Homo sapiens: one gene and its partner. The protein of the gene in region 2 interacts with the protein of the main gene of each other region in a pairwise test. Each region holds a gene or a part of one and is shown on either strand. Other genes may lie near its edges.

What was found. The genes of interacting proteins can lie anywhere in the genome.
Region 1: the proteins of MEST (region 2) and RNF19B interact in binary tests that used the Homo sapiens proteins (3 or more experiments, as listed by UniProt).

Annotation. Positions count from the first base shown.
Region 1 is NC_000001.11:32,947,766-32,954,809, forward strand, and holds part of RNF19B (E3 ubiquitin-protein ligase RNF19B), read right to left. Parts: intron 4,045-7,044; exon of another isoform or gene 3,715-4,044; coding exon of another isoform or gene 3,529-3,714; exon of another isoform or gene 3,443-3,528; intron 2,010-3,442; coding exon 1,804-2,009; intron 602-1,803; coding exon of another isoform or gene 599-601; coding exon 457-598; intron 1-456. Other genes in the region: metallothionein-1E-like, read right to left, coding at 3,529-3,714.
Region 2 is NC_000007.14:130,502,070-130,506,994, reverse strand, and holds the end of MEST (mesoderm-specific transcript homolog protein), read right to left. Parts: intron 4,352-4,925; coding exon 4,275-4,351; intron 3,063-4,274; coding exon 2,999-3,062; intron 2,057-2,998; coding exon 1,939-2,056; 3' UTR 530-1,938; downstream 1-529. Other genes in the region: COPG2 (coatomer subunit gamma-2), read left to right, coding at 189-319.

The sequences.
Region 1 (7,044 bases), on a different chromosome or scaffold from region 2:
TAAGATAAGATAGGTACGTGAAGTGTAAAGTACTGACGATATTTATGACAAAAGATAAAAGAAAGTCAAAGAATGAGGCGGAAAAAGGAGAGGCAACATGGATGAAAGGCATTTAAGTGGCTCTTAAAAGATAAGAACTGAACAAGTTGAGATAAAAGGAGGATACTGGAAGGTAGGCAGAAAGCATTCTAGGCAAAGGAAAGAACATGAACAAGTATGGAGGCAAGACAGCAAAAGGGAAAAAGCAAGTCCAGACTACCTGTAATATGGCAAGCAAAGAAAGGTAGAAACAGAATAGTAGCTGGTGAAAACATGATTAGAGGAGCATGTCAGAAGAAGTTTTCACAGCTTCCTTAAACCTGTAATGAGAGAACGGATGTGTCTTTTTGACATCCTTTTCCCTAAATCAGTAAGAGAATGAGACTACGAAAGGAATGGATGCATTTCCCATCTTACCTGAGGTAATGCAAGTCTGAGATCTCTTTCATACAAAGCCAACAGAATTCACAGCCACACACTGCACAGGTCATGTGATTACAGCTTCCATCATTCATCTTGATAATGTATGCACTGCATCGTGGGCATGGCTTGATGTCATCTGCTATGAGTGGGGGAAGAATGGGTAGAAAAAATACCCCTAGTTAAATCCAGTTTGATTTAATTGTTCCTAGGAGTATATATAAGAAATGAGGCAGCAGTCAAGAACTCTTCACTGAACACTCCAAATTGTACAACCCACTTTACTGGAAGGTTGGCTATGTCTAGACCTCAGGAATTTTCATAAAATGAATCCTGTCTCTTATTGAGCTGCCTATCCCAACAACTGGCATCTTACACAGCACTTGAACCACATTCTAGCAAGGAGATTTCCTTAGGGAGAAAGATGTTTCCAAGAAAAATGAAATTTCTACCAGTCGATAGGCTGGTAGATTTAAAAGAAGAATCCTACAGAAAGAATAGCCTGCAGCCTGGAATTAGCTTTACATTTTTAAAAACTTTAGTTTGGGAAATTTATTTTTCAGGTTCAACATGTATCATTGTGATTTGCTGTTAACATAGCCCACAATCCCTTCCCATGATACTTTCAAATTCAAAACCTAAAAACAACTGGGTATGCTATCTACCATATACTTGGTAATTTTCAGAGCAAGTTATGAACTATCCTAATAAAATGACAATTTAGGAAATTATGCTGTGCCAGGAAAAAGTGAATGGCAAAATCTTTCCTACTAGCCTCTCCCAAATGACATCAGCAAAATAAAAGTACAAAGCAATAAATCCACTGACATTTTAAAATAGGTTTCCTCTGACTCGCCAAGGTTGGAGCTGAATGTGTGACATTCCTCCTTTTAAGGTTAATCATTAATCTATACTAATACTGTTTCCTTTTCTTCAATCTGTACTCTACTTCCAAAGGCAGTGAGGCACTTAAGTCAGCTTGAAGGCAAACAGCACAGGTTTAATACTAATTAAATGTCTTTCTGTTCACAATGAAAGTTTTGAAAAAGCCCCTAGCAAAACAAAATGAACTAATTGCTCTCCAATCTGAGACATATTACTAAGAAAGTAGGAACTACATAATTCAATTTTGTTGCATTTCAATTTTATATAGTTGGATAACCTATAATGGTCAGAGAGGGAAGTGCTATCTTTATTATAATATTGAAAGTATTATCAAATGATATTTTCTGCTCTCTGATCCTTTGGAGTACTTGGGTTATACAATAAGATAATTTCTTTCAGCTATGGGCTCACATCATGAAATACCAAATAAAGAGACAATGAGATAATGCCAACTTATACCTGGTCCAGATTCTTGCCCATAACTGAGACCTGAAGTGTGTTTGGTCCGAACTCGTAAAGTCTGGGCCCTCTGTTGACGGGCCATATCGCATGTCTGATTTGGATGCCATATCTGCTTGCAGTGGTAGCAGAACTCAGTCTGGCAACCTTCCCTCTCACAAGTTAGCTTCGGGCAGCTGGCACAGCCATAGGCAATAACAGCATAACTAGGTAAGGAAACAGTAAGAGATACCAGTAAGGTAAGAATGATCTAACCAAAAGAGACATTATTCATCAGAGTTAACAATGTTTGGCACTACCCCACTATCACATATGATACAGAGAAAAGAATACACATACACACATATACACACACAAGCACATTTGACCAACTGTAAAATATATCCCATGTGAGAAAGTAAACTTTTTTTTTTTGAGACAGTCTTGCTCTGTCACCCAGGCTGGATTGTGGAGTGCAGTGGTGTAATCTCGGCTTACTACAACCTCCACCTCCCAGGTTCAAGCAATTCTCCTGCCACAGACTCCCTAGTAGCTGGGATTACAGGTGCAAGCCACCACGCCTGGCTAATTTTTTTTGTATTTTTAGTAGAGATGGGGTTTCACCATGTTGGCCAGGCTGGTCTCAAACTCCTGACCTCAGGTGATCCACCCGCCTCGGCCTCCCAAAGTGCTGGGATTACAGGCGTGAGCCACCATGCCTGGCTATAAATTTCTTGAGATTCCAAAAACACAAATCATTTATTTACTTTAAAAAGTGGAGGTGGAGTATCTTATTTATCCTGGATTTCCAGCATTTATTCAATCATAGCTGAAGCTGCTTTAGGAGTAGTTTGTCATAATAAGTTTCATAAATAACAGGGTACAAAACTATTTCCTTTTGATAGTTTGCTATATTTAGAGAGATTAGTATTTGTTTATACGAAGGAAGAGGACATTAGTGAAATAAAGAGCTATGGCAAAAACTAAAGTTTATTTTTTAATTCCTTCTTTTTTTTTTTTGAGATGGGGTCTCACTGTCACCCAGGGTGGAATGCAGTGGCTCACTGCAACCTCCGCATACCAGGCTCAAGCAATCCTCTTGCCTCAGCCTCTAGAGTAGCTGGGACTACAGGTGCGCACCACCACACTTGGCTAATTTTTGTAATTTGCATAGAGATGGGGTTTCGCCCCATTGCCCAGGCTGGTCGCAAACTTCCGGGCTCAATCAATCAGCCTGCCTCAGCCTCCCAAAGTGCTGGAATTACAGGCATGAGCCACCATGCTACCTTTTCATTCTTTTTTTTTTTTTTTTGAGATGGAGTCTCGCTCTGTCGCCAGGCTGGAGTGCAGTGGCGCGACTCGGCTCACTGCAACCTCCGCCTCCCGGGTTCAAGCGATTCTCCTGCCTCAGCCTCCTTAGTAGCTGGGACTATAGGCATGCATCACCATGCGCAGCTAATTTTTGTATTTTTGTAGAGATAGGGTTTCACCATGTTGGCCAGGATGGTCTCGATCTCTTGACCTTATGATCCGCCCTCCTCGGCCTCCCAAAGTGCTGGGATTACAGGCGTGAGCCACTGCACTCAGCCTTTTTCATTTTTTTTCTTCAAGTAAAAATTGTTTTATTGTCATTAACATATTTAATATAAAAAGAAATGAAGCAAATGGCTCAGTGTTGTATTTTTTAAAAAATCCAGGTTTGTGCAGGTTACTCTATTTACATCTGGGAGCAGAGCTGTCCCCACGTCAGGCATAGCAGTTGCACTTCTCCAACGCCCCTTTGCAGATGCAGCCCTGGGCACACTTGGCACAGCCCACGGGGCAGCAGGAGCAGCAGCTCTTCTTGCAGGAGGTGCATTTGCACTCTTTGCACTTGCAGGAGCCGGCGCACATGCAGGAGCCACCAGTGGCACAGGAGCAGTTGGGGTCCATTTCGAGCAAAGGAGATGCTGGAGCTCCCACCGGTGAGGCCAACAAGCAGTCAGGCAGTTGGAAAGCATGCTGCCTTTTTCATTCTTAAGTTCCAGTTCCACAGTGAAGCTGGTCTGACCATAGTCACAGAGACAATAAACCCTAAAGACTTATGATCAGCATCCCTCTTGAAAGCTCATCTTATCTTTCCATACTTTTTCAATTCAAACCTATACCTTGAAATGTCTTGATAGGCTCCAGAATCCAAGAATACCAGGCCTCTATCTTATAAATTAAAATAGCATTAAGGCCATACCTCCCTTTCTCTCTTCTGACACATATTCTTTTTTTTTTTTTGAGACAGAGTCTCACTATATCGCCCAGGATGGAGCGCAGTGGCGTGATCTCGGCTCACTGCAATCTTCTCCCAAATTCAAGTGATTCTCCTGCCTCAGCCTCCCGAGTAGCTGGGATTACAGGCGCCCGCCACCACGCCCGGCTTTTTTTTTTTTTTTTTTTTAGTAGAGACAGGGCTTCACCATGTTGGCAAGACTGGTCTTCAACTCCTGACCTCTGGTGATTTGCCTGTCTTGGCTTCTCAAAGTGTTGGGATTACAGGTGTGAGCCACTGCACTCAGCTGTGACACATATTCTTCATGTAAAGATTCAGAATTTATCAGCACTAATGTCGACCATTTCTTGTAGTTCATGTTCATTTACCAAGAATTAGTCTCACACAAACAATCCAATATATTTATATAACTATTAGCCTTTCTGATTAATTCCAAATATGTCAATTAAGCGCTCAGATTACTCTAACAAGAAATATAATACTTGTATAAAATAACATTTTAGCCAGGTGAGATGGCTCATGCCTGTAATCTCAGCACTTTGGGAGGCTGAGGCAGGAAGATCGCTTGAGGCCAGCATTTTTAGACCAGCCTGGGCAACACAGCAAGACCTTTTCTCTTAAAAAAAAAAAAAAAAAAAAAAAAAAAAAACAGCCTGGCGTGGTGGCTCACACCTGTAATCCCAGCACTTTGGGACACTGAGGCAGGCAAGTCACAAGGTCAGGAGTTCGAGACCAGCCTGGCCAACATGGTGAAACGCTGTCTCTACTAAAAATACAAAAAATTAGCTGGGCATGGTGGCGGGCGCCTGTAATCCCAGCTACTCAGGAGGCTGAGGGAGGAGAATCGCTTGAACCCGGGAGGTGGAGGTTGCAGTGAGCAGAGATTGCGCCACCATGGGTGTCACTCCAGCCTGGGTGACAGTGTGAGACTCCATCTCAAAAAAAAAAAAAAATCAGCCAGGTATGGTGACACAGGCCTGCAGTCACAGCTACTTGGGAGGCTGAGGTGGGAGGACTGCTTGAGGCTGGGAGGTTGAGGCTCCAGTGAGCCACGTTTGCGCCACTGCACTCCAGCCTGGGTGACAGAGTGAGATTCTGTCTAAAAAAAATAATAAATAAATAAATGGAAAGTTATGAAAGTTAATCACACAATTTTTTTTTTTTTTTTTTTTTTGAAGACAAGGTCCCACTCTGTTGCCCAGCTTCTGGACAGTGGTGTGATGATAGCTCATTGCAACCTGAAACTCCTGGGCTCAAGTGATCCCACCTCAGGCCTCCAAGTACCAGTGCATACCACCATGCCCAGCTAACTTTTTCTTTTTTCTTTTTATTTTTTTTTTGTAGAGACAGGGTTGGTCTTGCTATGTTGCCCAGGCTGGTCTGGAACTTCTGTCTTCAAGCAACCCTCCCGCCTTAGCCTCCCAAAGCATTGGGATTACAGGCGTGAGCCACCAAGCTTGGTCTATGACACACATTTTTAAAAACATCAGTAATTGCAGGTTTCCGTGTTGCCATCTGCACTCTGTCCTCTATTCCAATACTCTCCCGCAATATTCAAAGACCTCAAATAACGTGTACAAAAAGCTAATAACATTTTCTGGGATTTATTCTACAGTTTGCTTGTTTATTTGAATGTACATGAGATGTTAATCATAGCAACTCAAGTTCTCAGGTTTATCATAGAGTCTGCAAATTGACTTGAGAATGATGCTGAAAATATAAATGACAATGTATCCCCTATGTTATATAATACAGGCTGTATTAAAACTCTTTTCAGAAAGAACAAAGTGAGAACAGGTCAGTCTATGAATGCAAATGATTCATATCCTGTAGGAGTTCTGGGCAAATTTACCCCACCTAGCTGCAAAATAACTACTAAAGATAAACAACGTGTCTCCTCAAGACAGTGACTAGCTTGTTATTTTGCATTAAATGGGAAAGTTACTGGATGACCTCAGAAAAGCACTAAGTCAACTTCTAAAGATACAAATTAAGTGGACATCCAGTAGGGAGCCTTGAACACTTCATCATCCATTCCTACCTCACATGGCAGAAGTAAATGTTTATTAACATTCCCCCAGCCCCCACTTCTTTTTTTTTTTTTTTTTTTTTTTTGAGACGGAGTTTCACTCTTGTTGCCCAGGCTGGAGTGCAATGGCGTGCTCTCGGCTTACTGCAACCTCTGCCTCCTGGGTTCAAGCGATTCTCCTGCCTCAGCCTCCCAAGTAGCTGGGCTTACAGGCGCCCGCCACCATGCCCAGCTACATTTTTTGTATTTTTAGTAGAGATGGGGTTTCACCATGTTGGCCAGGCTGGTCTCGAACTCCTGGCCTTCAAGTGATCCTCCTGCCTCAGCCTCCCAAAGTGCTGGGATTACAAGTGTGAGCCACCGTGCCCAGCCCACTTTTTTTTTTTTCTTGAAAAAGAAGAACATTGGATAGGATCAACAATGTCAATTTTGAGTGTGTAATTTGGTGCCAAGGAAGTAAAATAACCCCAAATTACTCATGAATCCACAGCAATCTATTACTACGACACAGAATTACTCAGGGCACGAGATTTGGCATTCCTGTTTTTGGGTACCTGGTCTGAGCTCTTGCCTCTGACTCATGCTGCATGACATGAAGCTATTAAAATCTCCAAACCGGCCTGGTGCAGTCACTCACGCCTGTAATCCCAGCACTCTGGGAGGCCGAGGCAGGTGGATCACCTGAGGTCAGGAGTTCAAGACCAGCCTGGCCAACATGGTGAAATCCCGTCTCAACTAAAAATACAAAAATTAGCCAGGCATGGTGGCGCATGCCTGTAATCCAGCTACTCGGGAGGCTGAGGCAGGAGAATTGCTTGAAACTGGGAGGCGGAGGTTGCAGTGAGCCAAGACCACACCACTGCACTCCAGCCTGGGCAACAAAAGAGGAATTCCATCTCAAAAAAAAAAAAAAACAATCTCCAAACCTTAGCTTCTATTCCACCAAATGGAGGTATAGGTACTTGTCACA
Region 2 (4,925 bases):
CTGGTTTCATGGGAATATAAAAATATATATATTTGGAATTTATGTTTGTTTAGGATTCAGTTTCCACAAGTCTCTGGAAAAGCTAAACTAAACTAATAGAAAGGAGATGCAGGGATAGCATGATAAATTTCATTATCCAGTGCTTGTTTTGGGTTCTTAATATGGTTTTCCTTACTTTTTTCTCTCAGGTATATTCAGAGGTGGCTATGATTTATTGGTGAGGTCCAGGCTGGCCTTAGCCGATGGAGTGACCATGCAGGTGACTGTCAGAAGTAAAGAGAGAACACCTGTAGATGTTATCTTAGCTTCTGTTGGATAAATGCTTACTGGACAAGAGGAAACTGATGCACACTACATGGTCAGTGGGCTTTTAGGCTAGTGGCATCAGTTTCCCAGAATCAGACTTTTGAAGATGAATGACTTTGGAGAAGCAAATTAAACATTTGGCCCTGAGCCAGCAGATCAAGCAAATGTCTATCTTTGCGCATGGGTTGTTTTTTTTTTTTTTTCTTTTTATTCTACTTGGTCAGCTTTGGGACGATAGTGCAGCTTTGGGTGATCTTGAAAATCAAATACTATCCTATACTCCAGCTGCTTAACTTCATTTTATTCTTTAATGTGTACCTGAAAGCTCCTGGCAATGCTGGAAAATTTTTATCCCAGAGGGGTGGGGGGGAGGGGGGAGGGGAAGCCAGAGTCCACTTTTGTCACAATTCATTTTTATTAATAGAAAATAAACACTTATTCCAGTTTCAAAGTTGTTATACTTGAAGTTGCTAATTTAAAAAAACGAATTTTAAATAATCACTTAATAATCCTGCTTTGACTAAGACAATGAAATGTGGCTTTAAAAAAAAAGTATTCAGCACCATTTGCTCATAGGTCTTTCAGAGTTTGTTCTTAAAGTTTCTGGAACTTTCCTGTCTGTAAAGTAACAGGAATTACTGAGCTACATTGGAAAGCCTCTCTGGGACAGGCAGTGGGGAGTTAAGCAGTCATCATAAAGGAATCAGTGTACATTCAGCATGGTGACTTGACTACACAACAATCCCTTCCCCTCTACTGTAGCTCAAGAGAGACATGCTTCTAACCACTGAGGTATGAGGAGTCTCAGACTGTTATTTGCTGTTAGAATTGGTCTTCCCAGCTAATAACAGTACATCTCTGGCACAGATGCTATTGGTCCTTAATGTCCTGTGATTTTAGGAAATAGTTTGGATTTAGTTCAATTTATTCAGAAACCAAATGTGTTTAATTAGCTTCACTACTCTGGCAGAGTAAGGGTATGCTGGTTTAGTATCTTTATAAAATATATATAATGTATAGGTAAATCATAGTCTTAAATCATACCTAAAATACTGTATCATTTAAACCAATATCTATTTTAACAAAATGTTTATAACTAAAAACAGCTGATGAAACACTAAATCCAAAGGTATGACAAAGAGGACTCAGCTCTGTGTTGCTTAAAGAACTTTTAAAAGGCATGTGCCCATAACGTCATTCGAGGAGAGGGAAGGAGCCCCCCTTCTCCTCCTCCTTACTATAGAATTCCTGTTGGGGGTGGGCCAGAAATTAGCACTTCTAAATATTTCAGAGAAGTCCAAAGTGTTAAAAAAAAGTCTTTTATGCAAAAGAACGTCTTTCTGCATCAGTGAATAGTAATGCTCATCAGAATTTCCTAATAGCACAAAAAACAAAGCCAAGTCTATACATTTGATCAGATATCAAAGTAATGGGAGGTGGACTATTATGTCAACCTTAGTCAGAGCTCCTGCTGGCTTCTTCCTATACACTGTTCACCAATTTGAGTAAAGTGGACTTTGTGAGAGAATTATGTTTGATGGCCAGGACCTCTTTTGGGCATTTCTTCCTAAGTGGAATACACAACACATAAGGGAGTAGGGGAGGTAATACAGGGAAGCTACTCTTTCCAGCTCAGAAGGAGTTGATGAAGCCCATATATGCATTCAAGAAGCCCATGGGATCCTCTAGCTGTGGATAGTGGCTAATGTGGTCATCCAGAATCGACACTGTGGACCGCGGCAGCGTTTTCCTAGTGGAAGAGAACAGCACGCAGGTGAACTTGAGGCTGGAGCGGGAGGGATGTAAGCCAGTGGGAAGCCCCAGTAAATGACCCTGTGGACACACCACACTGGAAGGAGCCACCAAAGAGCTTATTCACCTTCTACTCTGAAATTGTATCTTAGGCAGATAAACTTGCCAATTCCATTTATACAAACTAGTTTTTAAATGTTCATAATCCAACAAACAACAACTTGAAAATATAACACTTTTGCAACAATTGTCAAAGCAAGATGACTTTCAGCTCCTTAGAGAAGGATGAAGCATCAAACAAGTGGATCACACAGCAACTCACTGCCCAAGCAGAGATAACCAAGGATCTTCCCTTAATCCCAGGAGGAGATGAGAGAGGGGGTATTTTATTTAAAATTATATGCAAGCTGTTTACTACTAGCTTGTATCCAGTAGGCCACAGGAAGGTATGGAACATTCTTATGTGACATAATCAAGATTTCATATTCTGATACCTTCCAAGTAAGTACCTAGAGAGAATAGCAACCAATGAGAAGGCACTTTTCCACAATGAGCTCTTCTCAATCTCTCCTTGCCATCTGCTCAGCCTAAACCAATGAATTGGCTTTACAATCAGACTAAAACAAACAAACACTTTGTAGGTATATCCACTTTCAACCTTTGACTCACATGAGAGCTTTTTGTACACCAAGGAATATGTAGCAGTCATGACAGTGAAAACAGACTATGTATAAATCAAGAGAACGTATAACTGAATGTCTTGATACTACAATTATGTTAGAATAAGATTCCTCAACTCAATCTTTTTATTGTTTCCTGGATGAACAGCCAGCGAGGTTAAAGACAATGGCTAGAGCCAATAGCCCTCAACAGGCAATTCTGTTTACCACTGTCAGGATGAGATACTAACAAAACATAGACTTCTCTCGGGGAGACTCACCTGTACAGCTCCAAAAACTCTGGATAGGGATTTACAGGATCCAATGGCCCATAGATAAAATGAACTAGAAAAGAGAAAAGGAATGAAATACTTAACAGCTCTCACATCTGTTCTACTCCCACCCTAAAATTAACTCCTCTCCGAAAAGAAATGTTTTCTTCTTCCTTTTTTTATTATAATAGGCAAGGTCTCTCTCTCCCTTGCTCAGGCTGGAGTGCAGTGGTGCAGTCATAGCTCACTGTAACCTCAAACTCGTTGGCCCAAGCGATCCTCCCACCTCAGTGTCCTCAGTAGCTGAGACTACATACAGGTGTGCAACACCACACTTGGCTAACTTTTAAATTATCTGTAGAGAAAAATTTTTCTCACTATGTTGCCCAGAGTGGTGCCAAACTCCTGGGCTCAACCAGTCCTCCCACCTCAGCCTCCCAAAAAGCTAGGATTACAGACGTGAGCATCCTCACCCAGCCCAAGAAAATATTTTCTATAAATAATTTTTTGTGTGATACAAAACCTAGCTTGTTTTATTAGGTAACCTCTAAAAAACTGCTAGGCACGTACCAGTTCATTCATTGGACACATCTCCTCCTACAGACAACCATTTGGTCCCTCATCCAGCTCTCCTGCACCCTGGACCAAATGGGATATGCCCAACTTTCAACATCCTCTAAGTCCAGGATACTATCATTCTTTAAGTCTCTCTTCAGTTATAACAGACCCTTGACATTTGAAATCAACCAATAATTTCCTGAGCACTAATCACTATGTGTGAAACACCATAATTTTTTTTTAAATCTGTAAGAATGAAAAGACAAATAAGCACAAACCACCTATAGCCTCTTGATTAGTAATCCAAACAGCCTTCTGTCCGAGCAATTCAGCATGTAATGTGGCAGTCACTGACAATGCACACCACAGAAATCAGTAATACCAACTACCTTTACAGTAATGTCTCAGCTTTTTATATACTTCACTCTACACACACACATCACTGTTCCAGATGTCATGAGTACAGTTGCCAGTAAAATAAAGGATACCCAGAAAATTTGAATTTCAGGTGAAAAATGATTTTTTTTTGGTGTAAGTAGGTCCCAAATATTGTACAACATATACTTAAATACTAAAAAAGCATTTGTTGTTTATCTAAAATTCAAATTTAACTGGGTATCTTATATTTTTATTTGCTAAATCTGGTAACCCTAATTGTATAAAGGAGTTGCGATTACTTTAACCCTATAGTCCTTCAGTTTCCTATCAATAATACAAAAATACTCACTGGGGATAGTTACAGAGGCAAGAGCTCCCACCCAGCGCCTTCTGAACTTCTTCCTCTGATTGATGTACTGTAAGAGACTGTAGGACAGGTAAGTCAGCATGTGCAGAACAAGAAACCTTTACTGTTACAGGGATTCAAGGGCATAACGAGCCACAAGGAACACAAGATACAATTTCTTAATCCAGAAGCAGTTTAGCATTCCTGGAAATGTCCCACTTAATTTATCCATTTCTGTTAACCTCTAGAGTTAACCACCATGTAGCTCTAGTAGTGATTATGCCTACTATCAATATAAGAATTAGTGGGTTTGTGTATTTATTAAGCAGGGAATGAGATCTAGGAAGGCTGACAGTTGGTTTGGATTTTATGTAACTAAAAAGCCCAGGTCTGAGGTTCCAATTTAGGCTCCACCACTACCTACCTCTCTGACTCAAACATATAACACAGATCTTTCAACTCGGTTTCCTCATTTGTTGGTTTGTTTTTTAAAAGACAGGGTCTCCCTATGTTACCTAGGCTGGAGTGCAGTGGCTAGTCACAGGTGCAATCATAGCTCACTACAGCTATAACTTCTGACCTCAAGAGATCCTCCCACCCCAGCCTCCCAAGTAGCTGGGAGTACAGGCATGTGCCAAAGGACCTGGCTAGCCT